Regions from separate parts of the Homo sapiens genome. Here region 1 is linked to region 2. The links come from fine-mapping of genetic effects on gene expression. A gene starts in region 2. The other region holds a variant in brackets. All regions are shown on one strand. Distances are from middle to middle.

What was found.
Region 1: its variant is fine-mapped to the expression of KCNA1 in subcutaneous fat (GTEx, PIP 0.98).

What each region holds. Positions count from the first base shown.
Region 1 is chr12:4,993,977-5,002,305 of GRCh38, forward strand. No RefSeq gene overlaps it. Among named protein-coding and RNA genes, the nearest start is that of KCNA5, 46 kb to the right of the region's middle. The variant A/G (reference allele first, on the strand shown) is at 4,333.
Region 2 is chr12:4,906,346-4,914,674 of GRCh38, forward strand. It overlaps KCNA1 (potassium voltage-gated channel subfamily A member 1), which reads left to right and starts at 3,560. Exons shown (of 2, transcript NM_000217.3): 1 at 3,560-4,127; 2 at 4,495-8,329. The coding sequence starts at 5,034. The coding sequence ends at 6,521. RefSeq lists enhancers at 191-1,390, 2,185-2,941 and a silencer at 4,942-5,081.

The DNA.
Region 1 (8,329 bases), 88 kb after region 2:
GAGAAGCACTGTGTCCCCAGCTTCTCTAGGGGACCCCAGAGTCTGTTGGGGAATGCCAAGAGGCATCGTGAAAAAATTCACTGTTCTTATCAGGCAGTAACTGCCAGTGCCCGGTGATCAGCTGGCCAAGCTCCTGGAGACTATAGACCAGGAGTTAGCTGGGAACCTGTTTTCTCCTTGTGTGTTTCATGACATTAATTTCAGTAGGAGAAATCCCAACTGGATGTGCTAGGTCTTCCAGCAGCAACAATTTTTAAACCTGGGGAAGGAGTTTTTTTCGTTGTTGTTTGTTTTGTTTGTTTTTATTTTTGAGACAGAGTCTTGCTCTTTCACCAGGCTGGAGTCCAGTGGCACCGTCTTGGCTCACTGCAGCCTCCGCCTCCTGGGTTTAAGCTATTCTCCTGCCTCAGCCTCCTGAGTAGCTGGGACTACAGGAGCCTGCCACCACGCCTGGCTAGTTTTCGAATTTTTTAGTAGAGACGGGGTTTCAACATGTTGGCCAGGATGGTCTCGATCTCCTGATCTCAGGTAATCCACCCACCTCAGCCTCCCAAAGTGCTGGGATTACAGGCGTGAGCCACCACACCCGACTGGGGAAGGAGTTTTTAAGGAAGTTGAGAGAGATTTGGGGGGAGGAGGGATTATTCTTTCCCTCTTAAATCTTGGATCCAAGGAACTTGTGTTTGTTAGAAAGAAGAGTCGTGATGCCTTTTGTCCCAAGGACTTCACTTGACATTAAATAGCTACCTGAACTGGAGCACACAGTTCACACTCACATGTGCACATGGTACAGGCTGAACCACTGCCATCGCTCTTGCTTCCCCCAGGACTTCACCCTGCCTAGGCTCCCAGCCAGTGGAATCTCTGACATCCACGGGCCTTCCTGGGCACAATCAGTGCTTGTTACTATTAGAGTCCTCTCCTGATCACCTGCGGGATACACTCAGCCTTGACATGGTTTCTGCTTTGCTTGTGACAGTGGTGCACAGCTCAGCCTCCTCTCTCCAGTGAAGCCACCCATTCTTAAAGAGTGCCCAAAGCTGCATTATAGCTCTGCTGTCTGTCTTCCCTCCTTTAGCCTCCCACAGCCTTCTTCAAAATCTATTTGAAAATAATCTTATCTCCTCTACATCTCCCAGACCGTCTGAAGCACTGTTGCTTAAAGGAATGAGCTCCAACTTTGGGGAAAGACAAGCATCCTTTTGGAGCAGGGCTTGGCCACTTGCTAGCTGTGTGACTTTTGGTGGGTAACTTGACCTCTCTGAGCTTCAACTTCTTCTTCTGTGAAACAGGGTGGATGTGAATGTTACAGGGTGACATGGCCAAAGCATCTAGTATGGTGTCTGGCACATGGTGGGGAGTTGTTATTTTTAATGCACCCCCTTCATTTTCTGATATGTGCACAGCTTGCACTAGCACAGAGTTAATTTAGCTTATGCTGCCATTTTATGTATGTGTTTTATGAGCCAGCACTTTGTTAGTCACTTTCAATAGAGGTTATCTCATTTAACCCTCCCAACTGTTTGTGTGATGTCGATGCTATTTTCTCCATTTTCTAGATAGAATAACTGAGGCTAGAGACCAGGCATGTGAAACGGGGTTCTCTAAGGACTCCACTAGCCCCTTTCCATCCCCTCCCACATCTGCTTCATGCTTATTTGCTTATCTCAAGGGAGATGACACAAATGAGAAGACACAATCCCTGTCCTCAGAGAGCCCAGAGTCCAGGAAAACCAAGAATGTCAGCAAGAACTCTAACCAAGCTTCAGGGAAAACAGACTCAGGTGCCTGTGGGCTGATCAGGCATGGCAGTGTACAGCAGGTGGTGAGGCAGTAGAGAAGGCATGGGCCCAGGTCCTCCAAGATGAGCTTCATGTAGCCTTGGACAACATGGGCACCAGAATAAAGGTCAATGGACCAAGAATCAAGGGGAGGAGAATTCCATATGGAGAGCCAAATGCACCCTCAAGAGACATAAGCAAATAAGCATGAAGCAGATGTGGGAGGGGATGGAAACGGGCTAGCGGAGTACTCAGCACCAGCAGAATGTGTGTGCTGGGATGGGGGTTCCGGGCTCAGGAATGGATTAAAAGGAAACCCATAGCTCTGTTGTCAAGGAGCTTGCAGTTTGATTGGTGGGAAGTTGAGCATTGAGAGAGAGAGAGAGAGAGAGGAGAGAGAATTGCATACACTTGCATGAGGGCAGGGACTGTGCTTTTCAATTTCTATTGGAGCGTCTTGCCTGTAGCATGCAATGCATCCCAGGTCTCTGGCCTGGCAAGTTCCTCAACCAAGTCACCTCTATGGAGAGCAGGAGGCAGCAAAGACTTGCAGACTTGCAGGCAAGTCAAGGGGCAGAAGTTGCTTTCTGCTTCTCAAGGTGAGAGGTGCAGGCCTTTGCTGGGGCACTTCTGGGAGGCTCCTTTTTGTGGCTAAGCTACCTGCCAACAAGGATGATTTCTCCAGGTATAAAGCTTTACACTAAGTTATGAGGGAGGCAGAAAAATGAGAAGACACAATCCCTGTCCTCAGAGAGCCCAGAGTCCAGGAAAGCCAAGAATGTCAACAAGAACCCTAACCAACCTTCAGGGAAAACAGACTCAAACACCTGTGGGCCGACTGGGCATGACAGTGTACAGCGGGTGGCAGGGAAGTGGAGAAAGGGTGAGCCAGGGTCCTCCAAGATGAGCTTCATATAGCTTTGGACGACACAGGCACTAGAATGGAAGGAAATGGGCCAAAAATCAAGGGGAGAAGAATTCCATACGGAGAGCCAAATGCAGCCTTTTAAAAATTAGGGCCACAATAGAGAAAAGGGAGGAGGAAGAGGGGAAAGGTATGAGGGAGAAATCAATATCCTGACTGTATTGGCAAGAAGCTGGTAGGTCTATTAAGCGACCCAGAGGATCCTGGTGACAAAGTGAAGTGACAGTTTGGAGAAGTGAAAACACAAAACAAAACCACGGGCTCTGGGCTTGACTTCAAGTCCTGCTGTTGGTGTTGGCCATCCAGTCATGGACAAGTCACTTACCTCTCGGCCTCTATCTCCTCTCCTTGACCATTGGGTAATGGCACCCACCTTGCAGGTCAGTGAGAAAGAAAGGAGCTTGCTTCAGGGTGACCTTTGTCCTTTCCAGAGCTGTGGAATCCAGCCAGGTGTGGTGTTCCTCTACTATGACCTGACCCAGTTCTGACCCAGTTAAGAAGTATAAAATACAAGCCAACTTTACATCCCTTTCCTGTTTTTTGTTTGTTTGTTTTTTTGTTTGTTTTTAAATTAGAACAATTCTTGAAGTAGGCATCTCATTTTTGAATGGTAAACTGAGGCGCAGTCAAGCGTACCAATGGCCTTTATCCCACACTGTGTAGGAATTGAAGCGCTGGGATGCAGCCTTCCTGCTCCAGACCTGAGGGCTTTGCATCCGAATGTGCCTGAGAATTCCCTGGGGCCCAGTGAAGAGCTGGTTCTTTGGACCCACCCAGAGGAGGGTGCAGACTTGGAATGGGGCTAGAGTCTTCATTGCTCATATGCTCTCCGGGGTCTTCTGACCCAGGGGGCCCAGGGACCACACTTGAGAGCCTTTGCTTTAGACCCCATATGTTCTTCCTTCATCTGTGGTCCTTCCTCTCTCATGACACAGAGCATCTTTCACGGATGCTCTCTTTTTCTGCCCTGCCCAGGCTCCTGGCCCCAGCATGTTCTGGTGGCACTCTCTGAAAACCCCTGCCCTGGCCATCTGTCATGGCCAGAGGCGGCCAATGGATGGGGTCCAGGCTGGTGAGCTGCCTACATTGCCAAGAGGGGACCCTTGGAGGGCTTATAGGCGGCTGAGCCAGGGACTCTGGATCTTGCCCTTCTCTCTTTCCCCCATGGTGAGGTGCTTGGGGCAAGGCTGAGCCAGAACTTCCCTGGAACTTCTCTGCTGAGCATGACTTGGCCGCCCTCTTTCCCTGAGCCTTCTGCTTCGGGGCGCTAATCTTACTTCCTCTGGCATTAGTCTCCCAGTCTCTTGCCTCCCTTGAGCTCTCTTGCTCTTTCTCCCAATCTCCTGTCTGATCTCACCCCACTGCGATCCCCAGCACCCAGCCTGCCAGAATGGAGCTGGGAGGCAGTGACTAATGTGCTTGGAGGTGAGTCATCTACTAAATATAAAAACCCACTCACATCCCTGGATGCAAAAGATTCCGAGAGACTCCGTGTCCTTCCCCCTAAATCCACCCTTCCTCAGGGGACTGAGAGAAGTTGATTCGTGAACAGAAAACAAATGCCAAGGAGCAGCCACAGCAGCATCATCTCATTGCCCTCAGCTCCTCCCGCAGATCTCTAAAGGC[A/G]GGAATTTCCCTGTCTCTCTAGTTGCTCTAGAAGGAAGGAGTAGGGTTGGGAAGACCGTGATCCCCACCCTCCGTGGAGTTACGAAGGCAGCAAAATTGATCTTCAGGACCTCTCCCTCTCTTCTTTCTGCCCACTTTCTTGTTTAGGAGACCTCAGACTGCCCAGCCTCCTGCAAATGTAAAGATGAGTCTTTTAAATACATTGATATCTTGCAGGTCTTGGCCGTGCCTCACTGTATGTGATTGAATTGATGGGTTTCAGGTATGGGCCCTACCTTTGGACAGGTGCCCTCCCTTAGGGTCATTCAGTTCCCGCTACAGAGAGTGCATCTTGCTGGGCTTGACTGCTGTGAGTCTTTGTTCACATGGGAATAGGGGTCCTCTGTGCATGCGTGCATGTGTGTGTGTAATACCACGTATAGATTTATTTTTATTTTTTTATTTTTGTGTGTACATAGTTGGTGTATATGTTTATGGAGTGCACTTGATGAAGGTATACAATGCGTCGTGGTCACAGGTCAGGGTAAAATGGGGCATCCATCACCTCAGGCATTTACCCTTTGTGTTACAAACAATCTAATTATACTATTTTAGTTATTTTTAAATGTACAATTGAATTAATATTGACTACAGTCACTCTGTTGTGGTATCAAATACTGGATCTTACTCATTCTTTCTAACTATTTTTTGTACCCATTAACCATCCCCACTTCCCCCTTGCCACCCAACCGCAGGACTTGAAGTCTGAAAAGCTGAGTTCTAGTCCTCAGACAGGAACTAACTTCCTCTGTGACTTTAGACAAGTGTCTTCACCTCTCTGGGCTTCATCCTCCTAAAATCTGTTTGTAATGGAGTCTTACTAAATGCTCTTGGAGGCCTAGCCCATCCCTTTCTGTAATCACCACATACCCTTTGCTTACATGGAGGGTGGTCTGAAGGTCTCTCTCTGGGGAAGAAGCACAGGTGGCCTCCCTGGCCATGTGCCTCACAGGTATGTACCTGTGCACACATGCGATGTGGGGAAAACACCAACTGATGGCCTGACAAGCATTCACTCTCATATCCATGGTGCAGTCACTGCAGCCTGGAACAAAGAGAAAACGCAGTTCTCACCTTTCGAGGACTGTGATCTGAAATCGGATGGCACATCTTCTCATGTGAAATGTGAACTTGATTCCCTCTCCATCTTTTCATTTTTCTTTCTCTTTATGTTTTTCCATTCTCAGGCTTTTTGAAAGGCAGAGGAAAGACCATTTCAGTGGAGGTTAGAAGGTATGAGTAGTAATACAGGGAGATAGAAAAAGACGAAGAAGAAATGTGACAAATAAGCATTGTGCCTCTAGACTCCACAGGACTAAGCTCTGGTCTCTGCTGGGCCACTGTGTGACTTTAGACCCAGCGCCTGCCCTCTCTGGGCATGCACTGAACAGGAGGGCTTGAATGAGGTTTCCTTTAGCCAAAACATTCTAAAATTATGAGGTTACACAATTGAGGCATGGAGGAGAGAGAACCAGCCCTTGGGTGATGCTTACCATGAATGAACAATCTAAAAAGTCCCTGAGGATGAGCATCACTTTATTTTTAATAACTAAAATAATAAGTCATTCTTCTTTTGGCTCATTCAAAATGTATTTGTCTAGTGCCAATGAGTTTCAAACCTCCAAAGCGGCTGCCTGTCATAGGTGGGGTCTTTGTGGATGGGTCGCATGCCGCACTAAATGTTATGGAATTACCAGAGCAGACTGGCACATAAGCATTTCCTGATGCCATCAATGAGGTTTCTGAGAAGTGGTTTGCTCAGGTCGCATGGCTAACTTGTGGCCCAGCCCTACAGAGGACAATTACTTCCTGCTCTCCGTGAAGCTGGGCCAGTCTTTACCCTGTGGATCAACCAGGTTTACTCAGCAGGCCCTCGTCCTCTCTGACTTGGGGATGGGGAGAGTGAAGAGCTAGTAACCTTCTCCCAACCTTTATGCATCCTGGTAGATCTGTGGCTAGGCAAAATGTGCTTCCCTCTGGAACCTGCTTCTCTGGAACACAGCTCCTAGGTGGCAGTATTGGTGAAGGGATCTACACAGCTTGCTGTGTACACTGCCTCAAGGGGCACCACTGGCGTGCATTCTGTCTGGAGGCTCCATGGTTCTGCTCTGTGCCCCCCTCACCTCTCTGGTAACGATGCTCAGGGAATTTCAGGGTCCACCTTGCTGTCCTGGGACAGAGTCCTGGTGGTGATCTGGAGGTCCAGGGCACAGAGGAAGCAGAATGCTTTTTATCTGTGTCTAGATTTCTCCTTTTTCCTCCTACTGGTAGCCCCAGCAGAAGCCACCTGGAACTTAGCTCTCCAATTCACACATTGAAAGACACTTTGAGGGGTCACCTGGATTCCTTCCCCCAACCCAGGGAGAAGATCCAGACTCATTCAATGACCACAGCCTCTGAGGGCAGAGGAGGACAAGCTGCTGCCCTCGGGTGGCCTGGACTTCCCACTCCGAGCGAGTGGCTACAGCTGCAGCAGGCTCTGCAGTCCTCTTTGCATTCACATGCTCTTCCCTCTTCCCCTCAGCAGGGGCTGTGGCCGCCTCTTTCAGGGTCAGAGAGTCCTCTGGCTCCCCTTGCAGAGGCAAGAGAAAGAGGATCACAGCATTTTCATGCTCTGGAGCAACAGTGACCTGTATATCTGGAGGCTCTGGAGAGCTATTTTGTCAAAACTGAGCAAGCATGCCACCAGTTCCTTCATCCGGCAACATTTTTGAGCACCTACTATGTGCCAGCCATTTTCCCCATGCTGAAAATGCACTTGGTCACAGCAGGAGGCCTCTGTGTATTGTGAACTCATGAATGAGACCCAGCCCCGGGAGGTGCGTACCCATGTGCTCCTGTCAATCTGGCTGATAGTGCATGGCAAAACTCAGAGCAGCAATCTCCTGGCCTTCCTCCTCTGCCCCAGTTAATTAGGGAGAATAGTGCTGTGACCTACTCACAGTGGTGAACAAGAGAAGGTTTGGGGGACTTCGAGTGCCTTAGAGAAAGAAGCACCCACCTACAAAGTGTTTCCTGCAATTGCAGCAGGAAAGGCAACTATGATGGCTTGAGCCCAGTTAAGAGCAGACACCTCAGATAAAGAAATGGGATGCTGTCTTCCCAGGGAGAGAGAAGCCTATGCCTCAGCTGGTCAGGAGAATACAGGCTTGCTGCAAGTTGGTTCTACCCAGTGTGGGCTGCTAGGGAGGTTGAGCAGTTCAGAGACATGGAGCCCCACGGCCACTGTGTCTCCTGGGAACACAAACCTGGCTCCTAGCACGAGAAGCAGCAATGGAGAAGGGAGAACTCTGTGGCTGCAGGTGCTCTGTGACTCTGCCCTCCGAGGAGCCCATGGTTGGCCTGGGAGCCTTTGCCTCGTAGAGCCTCATCCTAACATTGAGGTCATCTCCAAGCTACCGAGTGAAAGAAGTATACCCCAATGCAAGCAGCGTTAGCACCCAGCATTTGCATTCTGTGCATGGCTGCTCTTCCCATCATCGGGGGCTGAACTGCTCAGGTTCATGGACACCCACCTCGCAGCTCCCTGCTAGGGCCTAGGACAGTGCTGGTGCCTAGCCAAGTCCATTTCTGTTGCATTGAATTGAAATGAGTTAGGGGCTGAGGGGAAAAAAAAAAGAAAAAGGCTTGTGATTTGTCCCATGGAAACTCATGTTATTCTTGCCAAAATCTTTGAAAAAGAGAAGCAGAGTGTGCACATTTTTTAAGGGTTACAGTCTTGTTTTTTTTTTACATCTCAGACTTTTCACATCAGGCCTAAGAGGAGCAGGCTAATGGGTATCTTGGAGGGCTGGATGAAGGGTAGCGGGGTCATGGCCACCCCCTCTGCAGGGCAGGAACCAGAGCAACAGAAGTAACAGAGAAATAGAAGAGCCTGGACATGTGCTGGTCTTTAGGGGAATCAGGAGATGGAGGAACAGTGTGGCCCCTCCTCTTATCCTCTGGTCATGGGATGCAG
Region 2 (8,329 bases):
TAGAAAGCATAACCCAAGACAGGATTATGTGCGAATGCTTTAATGGGAGGTGTGAAGCCAGAACCATGAGAGGAAGAGAAAAGGAGAGTGAGACAGGGAAGGACAGGGTGCAGATCCAAGGAGAAGAGTTACCAAACTAGTTACTGCTTCATGAGTCACAAAGAGACACAGCCTTTTCATTAGACCATGTGGTTGCTTGGCCATGAAAATAATAAAGGTAGAGGGGATTTACCGACGAGCTCCATCCTAGCTTGCATCTCCCACTGGGCAAGCTCCTCTTGGTCCATTGAGCTAATGCACCCCTAGGTTTGTGTTACTCACCTAGGCCTTTTTGCAGTCTTGAGGAATCCAGATTCCACTCCTTGCAGTGCTGTCAACTTCAAGAGGCAGAACTCTGCCACCCATCGAGTTGACTTTTCCAGCAGCACCTGCAGTGGGGCAAGTGGCCATTGGACAAGACAATGGTGAGCTGGAGAGAATCTGAGGAGATGGCCTACGCTGCCCAATACAGTGACAACTAAGACACACAAGGTCTCAGACTTCAAGGAGCTCCTAAGCTGCCCAACACAGAAGATCTCAGAAGACACAGAAGATCTCAGACTTCAAGGAACTCACATCTAGGTAGGAGCGAAACTGTTTGGGACACTCCTGCAGTAAATGATATTACCATTTATCTGGTTATTAAGGCCACAAGCCTAGGAGACAGTCCTAAAACTTTTCTTTCCTCACATCCCAAATTCTGCCATCTCTATTTCAAAATGTAATTCTCTTCCAAAAACTCCTTACAAGCTCACCACAGTCTCCCTCATCTAAGCCAACATTGCTTATGCTACTTAGTAACCTCCAACCTTGTGTCTTGTTTCTAGTAGCCAGAATAATCTCCAAGAAATGCAAATCATATTGCTATATTGATGCATATCCTCCAGTAGGTTCCCATTGTACTCAGAATGAAATGAACTATTCTTACCATAGCCTTAGAGGCCCTGCATGATCTGGGCTCTGCCTGCCTTTCTGACCTACCTTTGATGACATTCTTTCTCAGTGACTTCTTTCTGGCCATACTGGCTCTCTTGTTTCCTGAATATGCTGAGTCTGTCCTTGCCTTGGGACCTTTGCTCTTACACCCATCCTTTCATCTTCCTGTTCCTTGCTCTCTCTTCTTGATGTTTTTTGTTCAAATGTTACTTCTGCAGAGAGGCCCTTCTTATCTGCAAACCTATATTTGTCACTTGCTGTGCCTGATTCTTAATTTTCTTTATCTAACACTATAATGTATGACGTATATGTTTATTGTCTGTATCTCCCACCAGAATATGAGCTCCATGAGACCTGGGACCTTATATGTCTCCATTCCAGTGCAAGGGCACCATCTGGCCCATAGCTGGGGCTGGGCAAATATTTGTTGAATTAATAAATATCTTCAGACCCTTACCAAGGGAGGACTTCCATCAAGAATGCTGAGTTCCAGTTAGCCAGGAGTGATGGCTTGTGCCTGTTGTCCTCCCAGTTACTCCAGAGGCTAAGGTGGGAGGATTGTTTGAGCCCAATACTTCAAGGTTGCGGTGAGCTATGATTACACTACTACACTCTGTCTCAAAGAAGAACAAGAGGAAGAAGAGGAAGAGGAAGAAGGAGGAGGAGGAGGAGAATGCTGAGTTCCCAGCTCACAATTTTCTTCCAGTCCCTTGGAGGTCCAGTCCTGCTGTAAACACATCTATCAGAGATGTGGAAGATTTCCTAATATGCCCCCCAATAAAACCCGGAATTTAGGAACCTGGGATCTCATCCAATCTGTGAATCCCTTGTAGTAAGGCAATCTCCTAATGCTGAGTCAGGGCACATGCATTCACAAGAAGCTAGGAAGATGACAGTCTTAGGGACATTTAAAGGAAGGCAATGGGTTATAGGAAGAGGGAGGTACAAGATAAGGACAGATAAAGTGGAGAATAGGGAAGCTCAGTAGTGCTAGGATATGGTCAGAAAACCCTTGTCTCGTAGGGTTATCCCCAGTAGGGTTCTAGCAGTGGCAGCAGCAACAAAACCAAAAGACTTGGCAGTACTTCAGCTGGGAGCTTCATATTTATATCTTTGTTTTTATTTTTAAATTTTTTTAAAAAATATATTTATTTGCATTAGAACAGCAGTGCAGAAAGGTAGGGATCCCTGGAGCTATTGAGATTGAGGGATATGCGTGTGGAAGGTGGGAAAGGGGAAGAGTTTAATATGGGAAGGAGGAGTATAAGAGAACTCATTGTTCATGAAAGAAAAGCTGGGGTACGGATCTGAAGGAGGGGAGGGAACATACACTTTTGTTTTTCTGAAAGGAATGCTGGCGTCTGAATCTGGAGGAAGGATTTAACTAGTTCCAGACAGGGACTGTTGCACTGCCTGGGCAATCCCGCAGGGGCCCCTGCTTTCCACTAGCCACAATAGAGCGGGAAGGATGCAATCATTGGCTTTGATTAAGGAGGTGGGTGGTGTAGGCGGGAGGCAACGGTGGTGAGAAGGGTGGTCCCAAGGCCGCGGGAGGAGCCAATCAGCGGCGACTCTGGGCTCTTGCAGCCTCCTTAGAGACTCCGCAGCCCTGGAGGTACCAAGCTGCCTGCTGCCTTTTCTCGCGCTGCAGGCGCGGAGATGCAGCGCCTCTGGGGGCGCAGCTCCAGCCGCACTCGCAGGGCAAGGCACACGCCCCCGGCTCCTGCTGCCATGCGCCTCTGCGGGGGACCCTTTCCAAATAAATTGCAAGCTTTGAAAGTGGCCCTGTGGAGGCACTAGGCTGGGGAAAAAGGCTGCGGGAGGAGGGACATAGGGTGGGAGGTGAGTAGGCGACTTGCTTCTCAGATTATTCCCAATTAGCACCAAGTTGGCAGACAACCCCACAAACCCACGAAGCCTTCGGTCCCCCACAAGTCACATTCCCTGTATTTCAGAATAATCGGATCGTAAGAAAACTTCAAGTCCCATCGTAGGTTAAAGAGGGACAGGCTCTTAGTACCGCCGCCGCCCAGTAAAACTACATGGAACAAACCCAGGGATCCTCATCTGCACAGCTCTGCCCAAAGTCTGCAGCTCTGCGAGTCCAGCCGGCGGGGGAAGCTGGGTGGGCCCCGCAGAGAGCAAGGGCCTTCTTGGGGGAGGAGCGGGATGGGGCGCAGAGCAGTGCGATCGAAGAGGGTTACTGTGGGACTGCACAAAAGCAAACCCGTCGGAGGAGTTTTGCCAGAAACACCACCGCCTGCATTGCGTCGGACCTGACCATTTCCAATGTGAAATTCCCGGGGAAGGTCGCGAGCCGCTAGGGGCCGTTCGTGGGCGGGGCGGCGGGCCACAGGGGAAGTAGAGTTAGCGGTCGGCTTTTCTGGTAGGAGAGGAAAAAGCTGTGCTGGCAAGGGTGGGAACTGAATGACAACCCCGCTCTCTTCCAAACCACCCCCTCATATTTTCCATCCACCTCCTCGCTCCTGCCCTCCCCCGCCCTCCCCAACCCACGCCCGGGTGGGCCAATCGCTGCTCGGTATTCCAGGCGCTTTCTCAGGTTTCTGCTGATCTTGCAGCGCCCAGAAATGGACCGAGCGGACCCGCCGCCGCACGCACCCTGCTCCACTCCAAGCTCCTAAGGGCTCCTGGCGCGCCGCGTAGCCTTGGCGAGGTCCGCGCTGGGGTGCGGAGAGCGAAGGGAACTGGAGAGCCATGTAGATCCAGGCTCTCGCCCGCCCGCCTCCTTCGGGATCGAATCAAGGGCTCCCATAGTGTTAGGAGGGGGCGAGAGTGCTGTTTATCGTCATTTGCCTCGGAGCTTCGAGAGAGGGTGGTATTTTGCTTTTCCGCCCCGCATCCTCCGGAACTCCCTGCACCGGAGAGAGGACGGCGTCTCCAGGTTGCTGGCAACCGGTGAGAATGGGGGTAGGGAAGGAACATTTTCGCCGTAGCTGCTCCGTAAAGCGATTGTCCAACTGAGAGGGGCGTCGGACGAGTGGACCAGGGCGGCGAGTTTGCCCGGCGCGTCTCGGATGCTGCTGCGGCGGCCGCCGCGGCTCCCGCCAGGGCACTGCAAAGACGACCTGCCGCATTCCCACTCGGGCTCTCCGCTGACTCAGCACCGCCCCTGCGCCAAGCCAGCCGGCCAGGTAGGGGGTTCCCCAGCTCGGGGATGCAGAAGCGGGGGTTGGGGGGACCGGGTGGGGGAGGCCGGGGGTGCGGGGATGCTGTCCGGGACCCTGAGCTTCCCCCGGCGTCTCTCGGCGCTTTTCCGATCTCTAGTTTAACGAAGTTGTAAACAGATCGGCTGTTGGGCATTGGGGAAAGTGGGATGGAAGAGCCCCAAACTTGGATTTCCGGGTGTCTGCGTGTCGTCTGTCCGTGTGTGTGTGATAGCCCTAGCAAACGTCCAGTGCTTTCTCAAGCTAGAGGTCTGTGTTCTTCGGTGTCTGTAGGTCCGTCCCATCTGAATGCTTCTGATTTTCTACCCCCGTATCACTTTCTATTTCTCTGCAGCGTGCATCGATCGCCCTGGTGGGAGCTTAGAAGGCGGCAGGCGAAGAGGGGTAGGAGGGGGGAGAGCCGAGGAGAAGCAGAGAGGGTGGCAGGCGTGGGGATCTGCCGAGCCGGCACTGCACCGGGTCCTAGGAAGGCTCTCGGAGGGGAGGGGAGGCCAGGGCGACCCCCGAAGCAATGGCCCAGTCCGCTAGAACGGCACTGCGTTAAGGCACCTGGGATCAGGAAGAAATATCTAAACAACAACAACAGAAAACCAACAAACCCCCAAACCCAAACCCAACCCTCTGCAAAAAGCTGCACCCGGCCCGCAGGCGAGGGGGATTCCAAACTGAGTGAAAGGCAGGGTGGAGGGGAAGGCAGCGAGAGGCAAAGTCGCAGATCTCCCGACCTGCTCGTGTTGAAGCACCTCCCCCTGGGCGTGAGGGAGACGCGCGCTCCGGTGGGGGGGCCGCTTGGGTCCCCCCCACCCCTGGTCCCTGGCTGCTTCCCACCCCGGGCTCTCTCCTGGCCTCCCACCCCCGCGCCCGGCTTCCACCATGACGGTGATGTCTGGGGAGAACGTGGACGAGGCTTCGGCCGCCCCGGGCCACCCCCAGGATGGCAGCTACCCCCGGCAGGCCGACCACGACGACCACGAGTGCTGCGAGCGCGTGGTGATCAACATCTCCGGGCTGCGCTTCGAGACGCAGCTCAAGACCCTGGCGCAGTTCCCCAACACGCTGCTGGGCAACCCTAAGAAACGCATGCGCTACTTCGACCCCCTGAGGAACGAGTACTTCTTCGACCGCAACCGGCCCAGCTTCGACGCCATCCTCTACTACTACCAGTCCGGCGGCCGCCTGCGGAGGCCGGTCAACGTGCCCCTGGACATGTTCTCCGAGGAGATCAAGTTTTACGAGTTGGGCGAGGAGGCCATGGAGAAGTTCCGGGAGGACGAGGGCTTCATCAAGGAGGAGGAGCGCCCTCTGCCCGAGAAGGAGTACCAGCGCCAGGTGTGGCTGCTCTTCGAGTACCCCGAGAGCTCGGGGCCCGCCAGGGTCATCGCCATCGTCTCCGTCATGGTCATCCTCATCTCCATCGTCATCTTTTGCCTGGAGACGCTCCCCGAGCTGAAGGATGACAAGGACTTCACGGGCACCGTCCACCGCATCGACAACACCACGGTCATCTACAATTCCAACATCTTCACAGACCCCTTCTTCATCGTGGAAACGCTGTGTATCATCTGGTTCTCCTTCGAGCTGGTGGTGCGCTTCTTCGCCTGCCCCAGCAAGACGGACTTCTTCAAAAACATCATGAACTTCATAGACATTGTGGCCATCATTCCTTATTTCATCACGCTGGGCACCGAGATAGCTGAGCAGGAAGGAAACCAGAAGGGCGAGCAGGCCACCTCCCTGGCCATCCTCAGGGTCATCCGCTTGGTAAGGGTTTTTAGAATCTTCAAGCTCTCCCGCCACTCTAAGGGCCTCCAGATCCTGGGCCAGACCCTCAAAGCTAGTATGAGAGAGCTAGGGCTGCTCATCTTTTTCCTCTTCATCGGGGTCATCCTGTTTTCTAGTGCAGTGTACTTTGCCGAGGCGGAAGAAGCTGAGTCGCACTTCTCCAGTATCCCCGATGCTTTCTGGTGGGCGGTGGTGTCCATGACCACTGTAGGATACGGTGACATGTACCCTGTGACAATTGGAGGCAAGATCGTGGGCTCCTTGTGTGCCATCGCTGGTGTGCTAACAATTGCCCTGCCCGTACCTGTCATTGTGTCCAATTTCAACTATTTCTACCACCGAGAAACTGAGGGGGAAGAGCAGGCTCAGTTGCTCCACGTCAGTTCCCCTAACTTAGCCTCTGACAGTGACCTCAGTCGCCGCAGTTCCTCTACTATGAGCAAGTCTGAGTACATGGAGATCGAAGAGGATATGAATAATAGCATAGCCCATTATAGACAGGTCAATATCAGAACTGCCAATTGCACCACTGCTAACCAAAACTGCGTTAATAAGAGCAAGCTACTGACCGATGTTTAAAAAACAAAGGCAAGCAAACAAAAAAGCCCCACTTAGCAGCTCAAAAGACTTAAAAAACAAAACAGAAAACCTAGTGACTCATGTCACGCTTTGTAGATACTTTACTAAGTAGACTTGGAATGCTCTATTTAACTGTCAATGCGTTGTTGCATTGAGGATTTTGGGGGTGGTGAACCAGAAGCTTTCAAGATCCATGACAAAATAAACTATTTTCCTTTTATTAAAAAATGGGAAAAGAGAGAGTATTTTCTAAAACTGGCTTAAAAAGATTCAGTCCACGAACTAGTCTAGGTAAAATAATAATCATATGCTTCCCCAAACTGAAACATTTTTAATGCTTTGGTTTCTTTAACTTTTTTAAAAACTCAGAACAAGATGATCACTTAGAAATATGAAATTGAAATTCGCATGGGACTCCAGTAAAACATCTTTGCAAACTGCGTAGCACATTGAAGACAGTGCATCAGATGTATTATATGTAACATGATAGACCAGCCAAAATGGACAATGAATAGATATTTTTATTTCGATCAACTGAACTGCATATTACAAGGTGAAAAAAGAAAACTCCGATTACTTAAGACTGGTTCACAAAGCACCTTATAAATTGGATACTGGTCCTGATCTGTAGGGATTTCCCCCTGGGCCCATTCTCTTTCTAATCCAGATTATTCTCTAAGAAAAAGTTAACTGAATTAAATTAATTGATTCTTCTGCAGTGCCGCTAAATGGTCTCAACTGCAGATGAGCCAAATACAGGTCTTTTCTCACCAGGCCTGCACTCCGACCCCTGGCTTTCAGAACTGGATGTAAAACCTTAGCCTCCTTATTGCAAGAGAGCACAAATGAAGTTAAATGTAAGCATGTTTGAATCTGATACAATTTATTTTATAATCGCATGCTGAGAAGTTAACCCAGACAATAGGGGATAAGCTTAAGTTGAAATCGATTCTTCTAAAAATAGATCCTTTTTCATTTGCATTCACCAAAAGTGCACTCCTCCATTTATTAACTATTTTATTAGTAAATAAAGTACTGTATTTAAGTGCATATGTTAGTCAGATGGGAACAATAACTTTTTGGAGCTCAAAGCATGTTCTCTTATTCAGCATTATGGCCTATTTGACTAAGATGTACCTTGAATTAATTAATGCATGATTTCAGTAATAAAAATTTTAAAAGTAATAAAAATTACAAGTCTGTGGGGTGAAAGGCCCAATAGAAATTATGGGGGGTGGGGGTGGGGGCACTCAGTCAATTTTCCTGCCTTTGCTCAGGGAAATACCAGGTTTTTGTGCAGGTATAGGCGGAGAGAGGACCAATATGCCCATCCCTTAAAGGGAAGCCATGTGAAAAACTCAATAAGTCATCAAAGTACATATAGCAACACCTAAGAACAAGTATTCTTTCTAGCTGAAGACAAACACAAGCAACACAAACAAGCAAACAAACAAACAAACAAAAAGGTGCAATACTGCATGTTTTTTGGTGCATTCTTAGGATGTAAATGAAAATGTTTCTCTATTATATGCATCCGAAGCAGAGCTGATTTTTTTTTCTTTGCAGTCATTCTTTGAAGTCTGTAGAGACTTCAGCCCTCCCCTTGAGGCTCCCTGAAGAAACTAAACCAATTGATTTAATAGTTGCTTAGTGCCTTTATCCTGTACCCACAGTGAACTGTAGAAAGTGCCTCCTTAACACAGCTGAGAAGTTAGGTAGCAAAAGTGGGGAAGGGTTGGGGCACAGACCTTTTGCTTTTTCTTTTTCCATTCTCGCTCTCTCATTTCACCACTGTGAGAAGACCACAC